Linked DNA regions of Homo sapiens: region 1 is linked to region 2. Evidence: fine-mapped expression QTL. Tissue or cell type: whole blood. Region 2 holds a variant in brackets; the other region holds the start of a gene. All regions are shown on one strand. Distances are from middle to middle.

Evidence for each region.
Region 1: TRPC6 starts here. The variant in region 2 is fine-mapped to the expression of TRPC6 in whole blood (TOPMed, PIP above 0.99).

Annotation. Positions count from the first base shown.
Region 1 is chr11:101,580,176-101,588,522 of GRCh38, forward strand. It overlaps TRPC6 (transient receptor potential cation channel subfamily C member 6), which reads right to left and starts at 3,832. Exons shown (of 13, transcript NM_004621.6): 1 at 3,159-3,832. The coding sequence starts at 3,328.
Region 2 is chr11:101,524,095-101,532,441 of GRCh38, forward strand. The region is part of intron 1 of TRPC6 (transient receptor potential cation channel subfamily C member 6); the gene reads right to left. Among named protein-coding and RNA genes, the nearest start is that of MIR3920, 8.4 kb to the left of the region's middle. The variant C/T (reference allele first, on the strand shown) is at 3,625.

The DNA of each region.
Region 1 (8,347 bases), 56 kb after region 2:
TTGGACTGTGTTTTCAGATCCTGAGATTTTAGAAATGCTTAACTTTTTTAAATGTCTGGGATTCTTCCCCAAGTTCAGCAGTGATGAACTGTAAACATACCTTTAAAGTTCTAAATAAAGGAAATCTGAAATGCCTCCTGGGACCTTGGCAGGACATGGGCCTTTCTTGCTAATCACCATTACAAATTGATCACAATAGAGAATATTAATTGATTTGCTATTGAAAGTTGAATAAAGAGAAAATCTGAGCCATTTTCTTCTGAACACCATTTCAATTTATTACTATTTTAACTATTAAGGCCTTATTTAACTATTAAGGCCTTATTGCACATAATTGCTCACAAATAAGATAATTTACCATAATTTTCAGTTTTACTACTGAAAACTGAAGCCCCATAAATATAAATAAAAACTGAAGCCCCATTACTACTGAAGCCCCATTACTACTGAAGCCCCATAAATATATGTAAAAAATTTTTCTAAATAAGAAAACTATGAAACAGAAATTTTTGGCAAGAGTCATAGAATTTATTCCACAGAAATGACAACTTACAAAGACTTGGGATCTTATAAGGGAAAATCTCAATGATTTGAGAAATGGCAATATTCATATCTAAAATGTACTAGTGATTGCCACTTTCAGAAATGATACACCTCCCACTATGAAATTGTATAAATCACAAGTCAAAAGCATATGGAAGAGTTGATTTCTACTCTACCAGAGGGAGTAATTTTCTTTAGCTCTTTCTCATACATCATAGGTGTGAAGTACTTTTGTTTCTTGGTTAAAATTTTTCTGTTAGTTGATTATTCAACTAGAAAAACTTAAAATCTTGTCAGAGAAAACAGTGGATGAAATGTAACTATAGAACCTTTTGGAAATAATAGATTCATATAAAACCAAACCCAAATTCTAGAGCATGGCTCACTCTTACATGTATTATAGTACCTCTGACATCACGCAGAGGGTGGATGTTATGAATTGAAGCACATTAAAATATTTCTGTTCATCACTCTGCTGCTCAGTTCTATTTATTAAGAATAGTCCAGGATTCTTGAACTAAGGGAATATTCACTAAATACTGCATGTTGAGGACAGCCTGGGTAACATAGTGAGAACTTGTAGCTAAAAAATGTAATAACAATAATTAGACAAATTAGGCAGTAAGCCACATTTGAAGAAAGCACTGGGAAGAGTTTTCAGGACAACTTGGAATTATTACTTTATTTAGTCTCTCTCACTACTGATATATAACCACAAGGTTTTTAATCAAATCATTTTTTGACAGACACAGCGACAAGTGATTATATGGATTACAGAATGAAAAAAGGTTTTGTTCATGGAACAGTCTAATTTTTAAAAAGCCGTATAAATTTTTAGTCACCTAGTTTAGCCAGGAGGTAATGTTGCCAAACCTATAACCCTCAGACATCGGAGATCTCAAGTTTAACCAATAAAAATTCCATCTATGTCTTAAACTTACACCTTCAAAGTACATTTTAAAATAGCAGCATTTCAGAATATCCAAGATTTATTTATTTTTCTTTCTATTCTTGTTTTTTCTTGTCATATATCACCTTGCTATTCAGAGGGTGGTCCACGGACTAGCAACCTTGTCATCATCTGAGGGATGTCAGAAATGGAGAATCTTGGGCTGTACCTAAGACCTGCCTTCTCAAAATCTGCATTCTAACAAGATTTCCACATGATTTGCATGCTAGCCATTAAAGTTGGAAAAGTCTGTACTATGAGACATAAAAATATCTTCTAATTTAACACATCAAGTGTAAGATTTCTTTGAGGGATGATGAAATTGTCCTGGAATTAGATATTAGTGGTGGCTGTACAACTTTATGGATATATTAAAAATAGTGCATTGTACAAGTTAAATGGGGGAATTACGTGGTATGGGAATTATGTCTTGAACTTTTAAAAAGAAAAACATATACATAATTGTAAATGCTCTTAACTTGCACAGCACACAGATGAATGAAACCAGTTCTAACTATTCTCCTTTATCTTTGAGAAAAGTTAGATGCTCCCTTTACTGCGGCTCACCTCTTACTTCGAAAGGGCACCGCAGCAGGGCTTGAGGCTGGGCAGCCCTGACACAGCACCCATCTATCAGGAGGGTCTGCCAGGCGCCTATGGGGTGGAATCCTCCCTCCAACTAAAGCTGTTTATAGAGCTGAGAACCTCGGGAAACCGCTTGCGGGTGGATGTGACAAGTCAGGAAACTTGACTACCCAATCACCCAAAGGGGCAATGGGACAGAAATGCTATCTGCCCGCTGCACATGTGGTCACAGCGGTGTCGGGGAAGCGGAGTCTTTTCTTCTGGAGTCCACTCTGCTTACTCCCTACCTCCCCTCCCGCCACCCACCCAGCTAAAAAAAAAAATACCCTAGATTCATAAACAAAAGCTTGCAGTTACCCACAGCCCAATACAAACGACCCGACGCCCTCACTTCTATAGCCCGTGAGTCTCCCAGCCCCTAACAGGCTCGTCTCCCCAGACGCCCCGGGTGAAAAGGTTCGCGCCGCCGGTGGAGAGTCCTATTGGTTCTATTTCTGTCTTCACTCCAAGGCCCCAGGACCGGGGAGAGGTCCTGGTCTAACTTTGGCTGTCCCACGGTCCAAGGACCTCAGCGCTCAGCCCGAAACGCTAAGCCAAGCGTGGAGACCGCCGGGCGCACCCAGCACCCAGGCAGCTCCAACCCTTGGAGTTCTAGTCATCTCTCCCCCACATAGGCTAAGAGTCACCCGGGCGCACATCTGAATCAGCCCCCTGTTCAGATCCCGCCTGTTACGTAGCGATCCTGTCTCTTGTAGAGCGCAGGATGAAGGGGTCTGGAGAAATCGACCACCCATCTAATCACCTGCAATGGTGGTGTTACTATGCGGTCTCACTCTCGTGGGCAAACATATCCATGCGTACCTACGAGGAGCAAACCTAGACAACCCCGCCTCCCCCACTCCCCGCGCGCCCCTCCACTCACTCAGGTCCCAGCCCTGGCTCTCGCGGACCTCCCAGCACCGTCCTAGGAGGTACACACGCGGGTTCAGGACGCGCGCGGACGGACTCGGCCACTCCTGCGAGCGCACAACCTCCCTCCGCGCAGCCCGCGCCCGATCCGCCCCGCGTCGCCGGCACTCACAAGCAGGGGTAGTAGCCGTAGCAAGGCAGCGGGGCTTGCGGGCAGCCGTCTTCTCCCAGCTCCGAGTCCATGAGCAGATAGTCCTGGCTCTCGTTGCGCCGCGCAGCGGCTCCGGCAGCGCCCCGGGGAGAACTGCCCCTCCGGGGCCCGAACGCCGGGCTCTGGCTCATGGCGGGAACGCCCGACTGGCCTGGGCCCCGCTCCCGGGGGAGCCGAGTGGGCAGTTCCAGCGGGGACCCGGTGCGGAGGGTTCGCGTCAGCGGCCGAACTGGACCTGGGCAGACCGGTGCCCAGGGGACGACGGTGAAGCAGGGGGTGCAGACGCCCGCCGCAAGTGGCTCGCCCACTGGCCCGGGGAAAAGTCACCACTTAAGGGGGTGCAAAGAGGATCTTGACCTGAGCAGGTCAGGCCGAGGAGACCCCGCGAGGATGCGTCTGGGGCGCCCGGGCAGAGAGGGCACAGGCGGGGCCGCTGGTGGTAGCGAAGCGTAAGAGCGGAGAGCAAGGGAGACGGAGCTGAAGAGTTACTATGTCAACAGAGACTCTCCAGCCCTCAGCTCCCGCCTTCATCCCCCGCACTCTCCGTCAAGATCCCCACCTTTAAAGGGATCCGAGCGACGTTCTAGAAAGCAGCCAAAGCCTGTCCTGTAGCCACAACTTTCAGGAGGCGGTATGAGCCTGAACTAGGAGGAGCCAGGCACGCACTCTTTTTTTCCCCTCCACTATTTAGTTGGCTCATTTAGTAAGGATACCAACTGCGGACTTCGTAGGAAGCTTCCTTTAAGAACCACTCTCAAAGAGCCAAGGAAACCTGTTCCTTAAAAGGGACACGAGCCTCTTCTTTCTCCAGACTGCCTTCATTTTCTTTGGTCATTTTCTCTCTTACCCTCAACTCATAAAGTTATTATGACTCTGCTTTAAAAATGAACAACGTTCTATGTTCCAAACGCCAGATGTTCCCAGTTCCTGAGAAAACCAACAAAAATAGGCAAGCATTTTCCAATGATACCGATAAAGAGGCCAACAACCTGCTTACTTCAGAGAAAAAATTTTCCTTCCGTCACTGCGAATGCAAGAATGATTTCTCTGCCAGATGTTTCCCACGTTTCCAAGCTGTTTTATTTTTAAGACTTAGTTTTAAATTCTGATTAATATGCATACGTGTGAGAAGTAAAAACTTGTCAACAAGGATGAATCAGTATTTGTAGACCTTTAAGCAGTAGTAGCCAATTAAGAATCCATTCATTAAGTCAACAAATATTTAATGAATGCCAACTGCGTTTCAAATCATTTCAGAATTCGGAGGCAAAGAAGCAGATGAGGCACCTGTCTGCCCTCATAGAGCTTTCGTGGCAGAAAGGGGGACCAATTAAATAAGCAAATGAAAAAATATCAAGGACAAATGCTACAATGAAAATAAAACAGGTTGATGTGATGGCAGCTGGTGAATGACTACTTCAGATGAGATGGTTAAAAGAGGCCCCTCCAAGGAGGTGCTCGTTAAGTTGAGACATGCATGGCAAGCAGCCAGCCATGAAAAGATCAGAGGCCCATTGCAATTGGATGAAAGAAAGCCAGACTGAAATCTGTCTGCAAAGGTGCCTTTGCTTCCCATGAACAGGTGGACAACAAAATGAATGTTGGAAGTGTGGGAAAATGCAATTGATTTGATAGAAGGGAAAAGAGCTCACACATTTAGAAACTTCTGAGTTTGCCTTTAAATTTAGAACTGAAACTCAGAGAGAGCAGAAACCACTGTGTCCTGAGGATCCAGCTTCGTATTTGACACAGGTGTGTAGGGTGCATGCATGCATGCTTGGGTGGGTGAGTGGGTGGGTGGGTGGATGGATGGATGGATGGACGGATGGATGGATGGATGGATGGAAGGAATATAGAAAAAATAAGAAAATGCTCTTGGCCCTGGAAAGAACATTTTCCCTGGGGAAACAAACAACCTGCATCATTCTGAAGTCTGTTCTTTCTGATTTAACAGCCTTCCTTTTTGATCTTTCAACATGTGGAGCCATGATTTAAAATTCTTATAATTTTCTAGTTACTATACCTAGCAATAAGATATTCTTCCTAAAATTTGTTTGTGGCAACTGCTATCTGTAAGTATTCATTAGCTTTGATGCTTGAATGAATTAATCAATAAACGTTTAGTTAAACAGTGCCAAGGTAATCTCTTTGGCAACACCAAGTATGGGGAAAACATTCATGGGAAAAGTAATATTCAAAGGTTTTCTACCCAATTCAAATTCTGTGAGTTAAAGCCAAATTAATAAACATTTGTAGTGTCAGTTGAAGTGTTAACCTTTCACATAAAAAGAAAAAAAACAAAAACTGAGACAGAATTTATTTTGCTGTTGTTACACTGTTTTTCATTCACAGGTAACAACCTTCACACTGAAAAAATTACTACAGTAAACTTATTCTGACATCAATTTATCATGTGGTAAGACATGTTTTCCTCTGTTTTTTTTTTTTTTTTTGAATTATTGTGAGTACTAGAACAACAAGCCCAGTCATTTATTGAGTACCCAGAAGGAATAAGGTGGTGTACAAATGTTAGAAGATTCTGAAAGAGCTTATGACATGATGAAGTGGAATCATTAGATCAGAAGTCTCAAAGCCTGGATTTTTATTTCGGCCACTTCCCTAACTGAAGTTACATGATTTCAGAGAGGTCATTAAATCTCTCTCTGCCTCAGTTTTTTCATCAGTAAGCTGGTATACAATTACGCCTCAATCTCTAACTTCCCACATTATATAGTTATCTATGCAGTTTTATCACTTTACATTAAAAACATGGTGAAACCAATTTTTAAAAAGACAAAATACGATTAAATAATATAATTTTTGAATCAACTATGGAAGTATTGAGTAGATCTGGAGTCATGAAGAAAGCTGAGTGAACAAAGAAACAATAGTTTTTAAAGTTAAAAAATTGTTGGGTGAGCACAGGACTGATAGTTCTCACAGAGTTGGAAATTGCTATGCAATTATAGGTTATGTATGTTTATGTAGTATGTTCATGCTATTGAAATAAAAAAACACTCAGTCATTAATTCTGAGATGTGAGGATGAAGGTGAGTTATGTGTCTCTGTGGGCAGAGGAAGAGATGTTAATGAGAGAGGACCTTTGCCTCATTATATATATCTGCACTGTTTGATTATTAGTTTGATTTTACAAAAACAGATATTTTACATATATACATGTGTGTAATATATATAATGTGTATATATATTATACATATAATATATATATAACACAGTGTTTTGAAAAGCTGATAGGAGAAAAATGAGTAAAGAAAAATGGTTGTCCTCTAGAACAGTGGTCCCCAACTTTTTTGGCACCAGGGACTAGTTTCGTGGAAGACAATTTTTCCACGGACCTGTGGGGTGGGATGGATGGTTTGGAGACTATTTAAGTACATTAAATTTATTGTGCACTTTATTTCTATTATAATTACATTGTTTTATATATAATGAAATAATTATACAACTTACCATAATGTAGACTTGATAGGATCCCTGAGCTTGTTTTCCTGCAACTAGATGGTCCCATCTGGGGGTGATGGGAGACAGTGACAGATCATCAGGCATTAGATTCTTACAAGGAGCACACAACCTAGATTGCTCACATGCACAGTTCACAATAGGGTTCATGCTCCTAGGAGAATCTCATGCCTCCGCTGATCTCACAGGAGGCAAAGCTCAGGCGGTAACGCAAGTGATGGGAAAAAGCTGTAAATACTAAATACAGGTGAAGCTTCGCTGGCTTGCCCACTGCTCACCTCCTGCTGTGTGGCCCAGATCCTAATAGGCCACAGATGGATAGCAGTCCATAGCCTGGGGGTTGGGAACCGCTGCTCTAGGAAGTCTCAGGCAAGGAGCCCAAAGGGAAAGGAAAAGAAATTGCCACTAGAAGCAAAAGGTTGAGAAAACATTAAATGCTTAATAACTCAAGAAGCTCAAAAGTTACACAAAGCTGCAGTTTGTGAGTTGCTGTTGCTGATGGAAAACCACTAACATAGGAGTCTCTCTGGAAAATGCAGTTTGGGGTTGGTTGGCCAGAAGTACAGATAAAAGTTTAGTCGTGATTTCATCTGGATATTTTAAAGCATGGAAACCCTGAGCCCTGACTCCTATCACATGTAGAATCAACCGGGTGAAAACAGAAACACTTCAGAAGCTTCAGAGGGGCTGCTGATTCTCTATGAATGAAAGTGCCCTGCAAACTCCAGTTTGAGTAAAATCTGAGCAGGTGCTGCTATATCTTTGAACCTCAATTTCTTAATTTTTAAAATAAAGGGGTTATAATACTTTACATTTAGTATCTGTCTTGCAGCTAAAATGTTATTAACCATCAGAAACAAATAGAAGAATCTACAGATTGCTAATTTCATTTTTGCTCTAATTTGAGCTTGACATAGATGTTGTCCAAAATTCTAACATTATCATATGGTTATTTTGTAAGCACTTGTGATTAATATGGTTTCACTTAGAGAACAAGTTATGTTAATATCTCTTTTGATGGAATTATTGGGACATTTTTAGTAAACTGTTTACCAAGAGCATCGTGTGATATGTTTGACAGCACGATTGAAAAATAAGAACTGGGTAACAAAGGAGTGATTCATAAATAGTTAGAAGACGATTGAAAAGATTGTTGATTTATACATCAATGTCACCCAAGTTTAGTAAATGAAGACATACCAAGAATGGACTGAGCTGCTTTTGGTTTTTTGTTTTGGCTTGTTTTTGCTGGTTTTTGTTTTGTTTTGTTTTTGTTTTTGTTTTCTTTCACTGGACATGTTCAAATACAACCTGGACCTCAATTTTCCACGTATACTACAAGGAAAATTAATATACTTATGGAAAATTAAGTGAACACTAAGATCCTGTAAGAAAAAATCTAAAATTCAAAAACTAATCATCATCTCCATGGATCCAAAAAGTTAATAAAATATCTATTCTTCATTTTTTAAAAGGAAATAAGAAAAAGCTTAGAAAACTAAGAGTAACAGACACATTTTTAACATGGCAGAGAAAACTATTTTAGATAAAAACAACATGGAGAAACACCAGAGATGTTTCCATTAATTTAAGAAATCAAAGATGTTTGTCATTATCATTACTATTTTTCATAGCTAAGAACTTCAACAATAAGTAAAATAAAACATAAA
Region 2 (8,347 bases):
TCCTCCAATGTAAAAGTAGCCTCTCATTCATTTTACTTTTTGTATTCACAACAGCCTTCCATTTTCAAATTTGGGATTATAGGTTGATCAAGGTCCCTTAAGTGAATTTACCAACAAATGGAGACGCAGTGGCTTCAGTCTCAATCAGGCCATTTTTTTATTTTTTATTTTTTAGACATAGTCTCACTCTGTCACCCAGGCTGGAGTGCAGTGGCACGATCTCGGCTCACTGCAAGCTCCACCACCCAGGTTCACGCCATTCTACTGCCTCAGCCTCCCGAGTAGCTGGGACTACAGGCGCCTGCCACCATGCCCAGCTAATTTTTTGGTATTTTTAGTAGAGACGGGGTTTCACCATGTTAGCCAGGATGGTCTCGATCTCATGACCTCGTGATCCACCCATCTCGGCCTCCCAAAGTGTACAGGCATGAGCCACTGTGCCCGGCCCAGGCCATTTTTATCCCTTAAATTTAAATGTATTTAAATCACAAATGTAATTCTACCGTTAAATATAATTCTACCATGCTGCAAGAACTTTGATTTCAGCACTCTGTTTTTTCCATGTCAATATTCCCCATTTATCAAAACAGTGAGTAGTAGGTAGTAGGTGGTATGATATGTTTGTATACAATATGATACATAGACTTCATTTAAGAAAAATAGACAGCAAAATTTGATGCAGTGTTATCCATGGAAGGAATAAGTACAGGTGATTTTATCTTTCACTTGTTTTGTGTCATTATTTTATGAATTTCCTACAGTGTGCCTGCAATACTTTATAAATAATACATTTTTCCTTGATACAAAATGTAATGCTGCTTCAATTCACTTTCCAACTATTTCTCCATTTCTATGCCTTAGAAATAAAGTAGCAACAATCAATCAAGTCTCATTGCCTCACTTAAAATAGCCTTTGCGTTAAGTAGAAATCTTAAAGGAATTGTTGAAGAGATGAATATGTTTAAAAGTCTGGTGCCAGTTACATTAGCCACTGATTTTTTCATAACCATGGAAGAAACAATTAAACAAAATGAAAAGTATCAAAGTACTATTGTTTTGGAACAAGCATGTAATGGTCATTAGCATATCTCTGGCAATGGAAAGGCAAGGTGGTAGAGCATTTTGGCTTTGGAGTCAAATGGACTTTGGCTCGAATCCTAGCTTATGAGTTATTAAGAGTGTGATCTTGAGTGACTAACTTAATATCTCTTAGCTTCAGTTTCACCACCTGTAAAAGAGGAACATAAATACCAACTGTGTGGTTTTATTGTAATAAGTAGGAGAAATTTAAAAATAACCGACAGCAAAGATGCTTAGTCTTAGAATTTTCAGGACATGGTGATGAATTGAATGGAAAGGAGGAAGTAAAGGGAAGAGACTAGGACAACACTCATAGTTCTGGCTTGGATGAACAGATACAAACTGAGACCTACAGGATGAGTATGAATTAGCCAGGTAAATGTTCAGTAAGAGGAAAGAGACTATTCTAGAACTTGGGAGTGCATGAACAAAAGGCAGAAGTTAAGAGAGAACGTAACACGTTTTTGGAACTCAAAGTATTTTGATACACTTTGACAGTCAAGTACAACAGGGTAGCTAGAGATTAAGATGGAGGGAAAGGGCAGCCAGTCATGAAGAAACTTTTGAGTTATGATGCAATGTTTGTACTTTATCCTGAGCATAATGTGGAGACACTGAAAACTTCTAAATCATATTTGAAGTTGAGAGGATCAGGGTCAGGAAGCAGGATGACCAGGCAAGAGACTATGGCTACAAGCCACAGTGGTGGCCTAAAGGAGGCATCGCCAGCAGGAACTAAGAGAACACATCAGGAAAACCTTCCCTGATTCCATAGGATGGGCGGGGCAGCTCCTTTTCTTTGGGATCCACAGTCCTTTGTACTCATAGCCCTCATTGCAGAGTGCTTATCACAGTATATTTTAATTACACGGTAAAACAGATTCCAAGAGGGCAAGAGATGTGTCTTGTTTCCAGTCCCTCATGCAATTTCTGGCACCTGAAGAGTTGCATATATGTACATTAATGAAAGGGTATAAATATGAATCTCTCTCTCTCTCTTTGTCCTTCTCTTTTTAACAATGACCACTCATAGGCATGATGCAGACCCCTCTAATGAATGGAACTGTTTCCTCCAGTAGAGAGAAGACCACTGTTATTCTTACAGAAACTCTCAGTGTCGATATCCATGCGAAATGGTATTACATGCTGAACATTAAGTTAAATATGGCACATTTTCTGACCTCAGAAACTTTTCTATAAGATACATGCTTTGAACTTAAAAAAATAAATTTTGGCATAGTTTAGTTTCTCTTCCTTCTTTTAAAGTCAAGATCAATAAGTATAGTTGTTTTCTTACTGAGTGAATCTTTTCAGATGTGTTATTCCTAAACTTTCTCTTTATTTGTGTATATAAATCCTTTCCAGAATTTTCTGAACATCAGAAGATGATTTAATTAAATAGTCTTGGCTGGGCACAGTGGCTCACACCTGTAATCCCAGCACTTTGGGAGGCCGAGGCAGGCAGATCACGAGGTCAGGAGTGTGAGACCAGTGTGGCCAACACAGTGAAACCCCGTCTCTACTAAAAATACACAAAAAATTAGCTGGGCGTGGTGGCGGGTGCCTGTAATCCCAGCTACTCGGGAGGCTGAGGCAGGAGAATCTCGTCAACCCGGGAGGCGGAGCTTGCAGTGAGCTGAGATTGCGCCAGTGCACTCCAGCCTGGGTGACAGAAGGAGACTGTCTCAAAAAAAAAAAAAAAAAAAAAAAAAAAAAAAAAAAAATTAAATAGTCTTAGTTCCTGGACAATAGAAAATGTATTTTTAAAGTATATCTGATCCAGTCATGTTTCCAGTGAGCAATACTATTCACTGTATACATAAATGTTTAATGAATTAACAAGACTACAATTTCAAAAAATATTATATAGCTGCAAGGCTGTGTACTATTTTATAAAGCACACTACTAACACTGGAGAAGAAAAACATGCTGGCAATATGAACAATTTTAATTATTTATTCAGGAATAAAATTTCTATTTTTTTATCATTTACTGCAATATATTATTTACCTCTGAAATGTATACACCCTGTTAAATACCAAATAGGGTTTCTTGGTTTGACAAGGCTCTGTTGAATTACTGCCTCCAAGTCTTGATTAAATATGTTTATGTTTTCACTAATTACTCTGAAGCTTGAAAAACAATACTTGAAATCACTATATTTAATTATAATACAAACCTCTAGGACACTTAATAATTTAATGAAGCAAGTCTTTTGCTTGATCATTTTATGCCCATAATGATTTGACTGGGCTAGTAAGTGTTCTTACATAACATTCAAGGAAATACGGATTTCAAAATTTACATTTTTGATGACACAGTTCCAATACCGTATCCTAGGTTAACAGGAGATTATAGGCATTTGTGAAGTGTGTGTGGTTGGGGGGTGGTGTGCACACATGCATGTTATTTAATTCTTTTCATGGACATTTTGAAGGCTTTATAAAAACAATGGTATAAAATTTGAATTTTGCTAATCAACTTTATAAAGTTATTTGCAGAAAGACATTTTAAAATAAAGCAACTAAATAATTGATTTTTTTT[C/T]CTATAGTTCTGATAAAATTCATGATAGTACAAACATTTTCTGGAATGTGATGGAGTGTAAAATATTTTTGTCAGCCAGGCACAGTGGCTCACACCTGTAATCCCAGCACTTTGGGAGGCCAAGGTGGGCGAATCATGAGGTCAGGAGTTAGAGACCAGCCTGGCCAACATGGTGTAACCCTGTCTCTACTAAAAATTAAAAAAATTAGCTGGGCATAGTGACGGGCACCTGTAATCCCAGCTACTCAGGAGGCTGAGGCAGGAGAATCGCTTGAACCCGGGAGGCAGAGGTTGCAATGAGCCGAGATCGTGCCACTGCACTCCAGCCTAGGTGACAGAGTGAGACTCCATCTCAAAAAAATATATATATATATTTGTCTATGTCTATCTGTATATCCATATCTATAAACAGATTTATGTCTATCAATATGAATAAATAAATCTATGTTAAATTTACATATTCTTTACTATCTTAAAGAATGTGTAATAGGAAAGGTAAAAGTCAGATTAGTGGAGTATTATCTAATCATTAGAACTTAAGATACTGACATGGAAAATTGTCTGCCACATTGGACCTGGAAAAACAAAGTAGATCATAAGGTGGTATATGCAATACGGGAAGAGTTTTCAATCAGCAATATTGTGCCTTGGATAAACCTCATTGCCTACACATTGCAAACCTCATTGGCACTGTCACTGCACAAAGCTTAATATATACAATATGATCTTATTTTTTGATATGATCTATTATGAAATACTTAAAATTATCTTTAAACAGATATTACTTTAGAGGGTTATTGGCATCTATATTACATGAGGCAACACATTATATAGAGTTGCACATAATATGCACTCAATAAATGTGTATATTACTATTGTATTATTGCTTGTACTAACTCTTATGTGTAGTCTGCTTTCTCTTATAGAAATCTGTGCAGATGCAGGACCATCACCTTTGCCATGTGGTACTTTCTTAGCCTGTGCATATCTGAAAAACATAAACATGCTTAGCAGTATGAGGTAAGAATTAATTGCACCAATAAAAATTCATTGGGCCAAATGGAATTTCAACAGACTGAAAGATTCTTAGATGTTTTCTGGAAGGCTAAGTTGACTTAAGAATGCGTATGAAGAAATAATCTGTAAAAAATACTACAGGCCAATCGGCATCTGGAATCATGAAAATATTAATGATTCTTCCCAAGCCATATATTCTGGAAAATTCCAACTAATGAATGCACAGCCACATTAGCAAGCAGGAGACATGAACAGTGGATAGACACCATTTTTCTCCTTTGAACAACTCATGAACTGAATGTGAGTTGAAAGTAAGAAATACTAAGTGTGTTTTCTAAGGAATTCCCACATACTTTAAATAAAGACTTCTGGATCCACAAGACTTCATTTTGTGACACAGGGGTTCACAGATCAAACAGTTCAGAAAAGCTTCAAACTTCACTAAAAGCCTAGAAAGATCAGAAAGGATGAAGGGAGTTCACTGCCCAATATCTGCTCCTGAGGATGGGAGTAGGATAATGCATATATAGTCGATTAACTAGGAGGGATGGTGAGACATAGAAGAAATCAGAGTCTAGGCTAAATATCAGGGCAGCATCTTGGCAATGAAAGCTCCTGCCTTTGGAACACTCCCCTAAGGGAAACAGGAGATGCTGCTGCTTCATAAAAAGAATTAAATTGCCTAGATAAAAGCACGAGCGTGCACTGAGTGATCTCTTGCCCTTTAACTAGGACTTCGGACATACATAGTACTTCAAAATTGTTTGTTTTAATGCAGAATCATCTGAATGCACAGTAAACCAATGCTAAAGCCTGGCTAGAATAGATCGTCCTACAGAATTTGATAATCTTGGAATTAGGGGGGACCTTAAAAAATGCACTTATTTATGAAATACAGATACTGCTTCCTATGTACAGGCCAGGTACAATTTTAAACATGTTTTTATAAATAATAAGTCAATCACAGTTGGCAGGATAATGGAATAGGAGGCCCCCTGCTCATATACCCACACAGCAAGAAGCATTTGGCAGCCATCCACTGATAGAAGTGCCTCAGTGGGAGCTTTGGGATCTAGGGAGCAGATGTTAAAATTCTGGTATAGGCCAAAACCAAGGAGGCTCATTTTAATAGGGCAGGCCCACACTTGGGTGGCAATTTTGCTGACTATGGAGTAAGCCATTGATCAAAAATGAACGCATCCCCTGTGGACCCAGCTACAATCCTGTTTCACCTTGGTCCTGCCACCAGAACCATCCTCCAAGGAGGAGTCATGCTCACCCATGCCTAAAGTGACAGGTCCACCACCCACAGGCCTGGCAGCAGACGCTGAAGTACCCCTGTAACTCAGCTCTAGCCCCTCATCTAGTCTGAGACCAATCATGCCTGCCCAGAGACCTGCTGGGAGACACACCCATCTGTGCCCTGGGAAGTAGGCTTGCTACCCTCAGTCCCATAGCAGACCCTGAAAAAGCTCTAACTTGGCTCTAGCCCCTATAAACTGCAGTCTGAATGCAGTCCTGCCCACCCAGGAACCTGCCAGGAGTCACACTGTATGTACCCTGGGAAGCAGGCTTGCTGAACTCCATCCCACAGCAGATCCTACGACAGCTCAGAAATTTGTCTCCAGTGCCCTTCAATTGTGATCCGTGATCAGTTCTGCCTGTCCAGGAACCTGGCAGGAGATACGCCCATCTGTGCCTCCAGAGGCAGGTCTGAGACATGAGGCTGGGCTGTAGACCCTGAAGCAGCCCTGTAACTCAGTTCTAGCTCCTCTTATCTGCAGTCTGGGGCCAGTCTTGCCCACCCAGGGTCCCACCAAGTGACCCTTCCCAGGAACCAAGAAGAAGCCACACCTGTCTACAGACCTGGTAACAGGCCCATTTTCTGCAGACCTTGAAGTGGACCCTTGTACCAGTACCAGCCCTACTGACCAAGATCCTGGAAGTCCAGTCTGCCCAGGGACCAAACAATATTCACGCCAGCTCGAGCCCCTGGTAACAGGCCTGCCAACCACGAACTGTGATCTGGAGGCAATCCCATCAGCCCTGGGACCCAACAAAAGCAGAAAACCAATGCATCCACAAAATAAGATATTTAATAAATAAATAGAAATCATAAAAAAGAACCAAACAGAATGACAAATTTATTATCTCACTTATAATGTAGAATCTTGGAAAGTCAAACACATAGCATTGCCAGGGCCTGGGGGTGGGGGATATGGGGAGGTGTTGGTCAAAGGGTACAAACTTTCAGTTTGGGAAGCTAATGTACATCATGGTGACTATAGTAAATAATACTGTATTGTTGACTTGAACTTTGCTAACAGAGTAACCTAATGTTGCTTAATGCATACACACACATACACACACACCGGTAACAATGTGTGGTGATGGATGTGTTGATTACTTTGATTGTGATGATCATTACCCAGTGCATACATACATCAAATCATCATGTCGTATACCTTGAATATATACAATTTTTGTCAATTACACCCTAATAAATCTGGGAAAAAACTCAATCCCCATAAGAACTCTATGAGGTACATGATATTAGTACCAGCACTTTACAAGTGGGAAGACTGAAGAACAAGAGTATAAATAACTTTGTCTTGGTAGCATAGCTGCTTACTGGTGGAACAGAGACTTGACCCCAGGAAGTCTGGACCCAAAGTCTGCATCCTAAACCTTGCAAATGCATTGCCTTTTATCTTGGTAGGCATTCAGTATTGCTTTTTCTAGATAGGAAAGACTGTATTAGTACATATGAACATCATGCATAACATTTATTCTAAAAAAGAATTTGACTCACAATCTTGATTCTGGGAATATCTGATTTTACTGAAAGATTATTTGCTAATTACTCTTCCCAAATCTTATGAATAGGATGAATGAAGCAGGCACAATTTGAGGCGTTTTGTATTTAATACTATTTTACTGCCTACCATATTTTCACCCAATCTAAATATGCAAGGCCCAAATCAGCAAATTTTCCACATCCATTGTTCCCACTTCCAGTTAGTATTGACATTATATATTACATTTTTTTGTATCTTCTATAACCAATCGAGTTCATTCTCTCTTCTCCCCGTTCTTTCTGCTCCACTGAGGTTCAAAAGCCCATTCCTGGTTTATTGTAGAACCGCCCTAAGCATTCTCTCCCTCTCCTATCTGCCTGTTTTAGCCATAGCAGAGATTGCTGGTTAAGGAGACTTGGGAAGGTGTCGGCTCAGCAGTTTCCAGGCATGGCAAGAAGTGTCCTGAGGCAGAGGCACAGTTAGATGGACAGGGACCAAAATGAGATCACTCATGGTGCTGAAGCAAAAGCAAGTCCAGGGTTTAGATCAAGCAACAACATTGTACAGTTGAACCCAAGGGCACATGTATCCTGAAGCTAAGTAACTCAATCTTCAGAGTATCTCAATGGTACAGGTCTCTTTCCAAGTCTTGGGAGAGACTGTAGCAAAGGTCCCTAAAATTATATAAGTGCAAAAATCCAAAACCTAAATCTTCTCATTGAAGCTATGGCTTTAATCACACCTTCAAGGTGGAATTTGGTTCAGCTATTTAGAAAATTGGAAACCAGATAAAATGCATATCTGGTGTCCTAAAGCCTGCCTCACTCCACCTTTGAGGAAATCTTACTTTGTTTTATAAATTATTGAAGCTAACCTGAGTTTGAGATAGATCTTATTCTTTTCCTAAA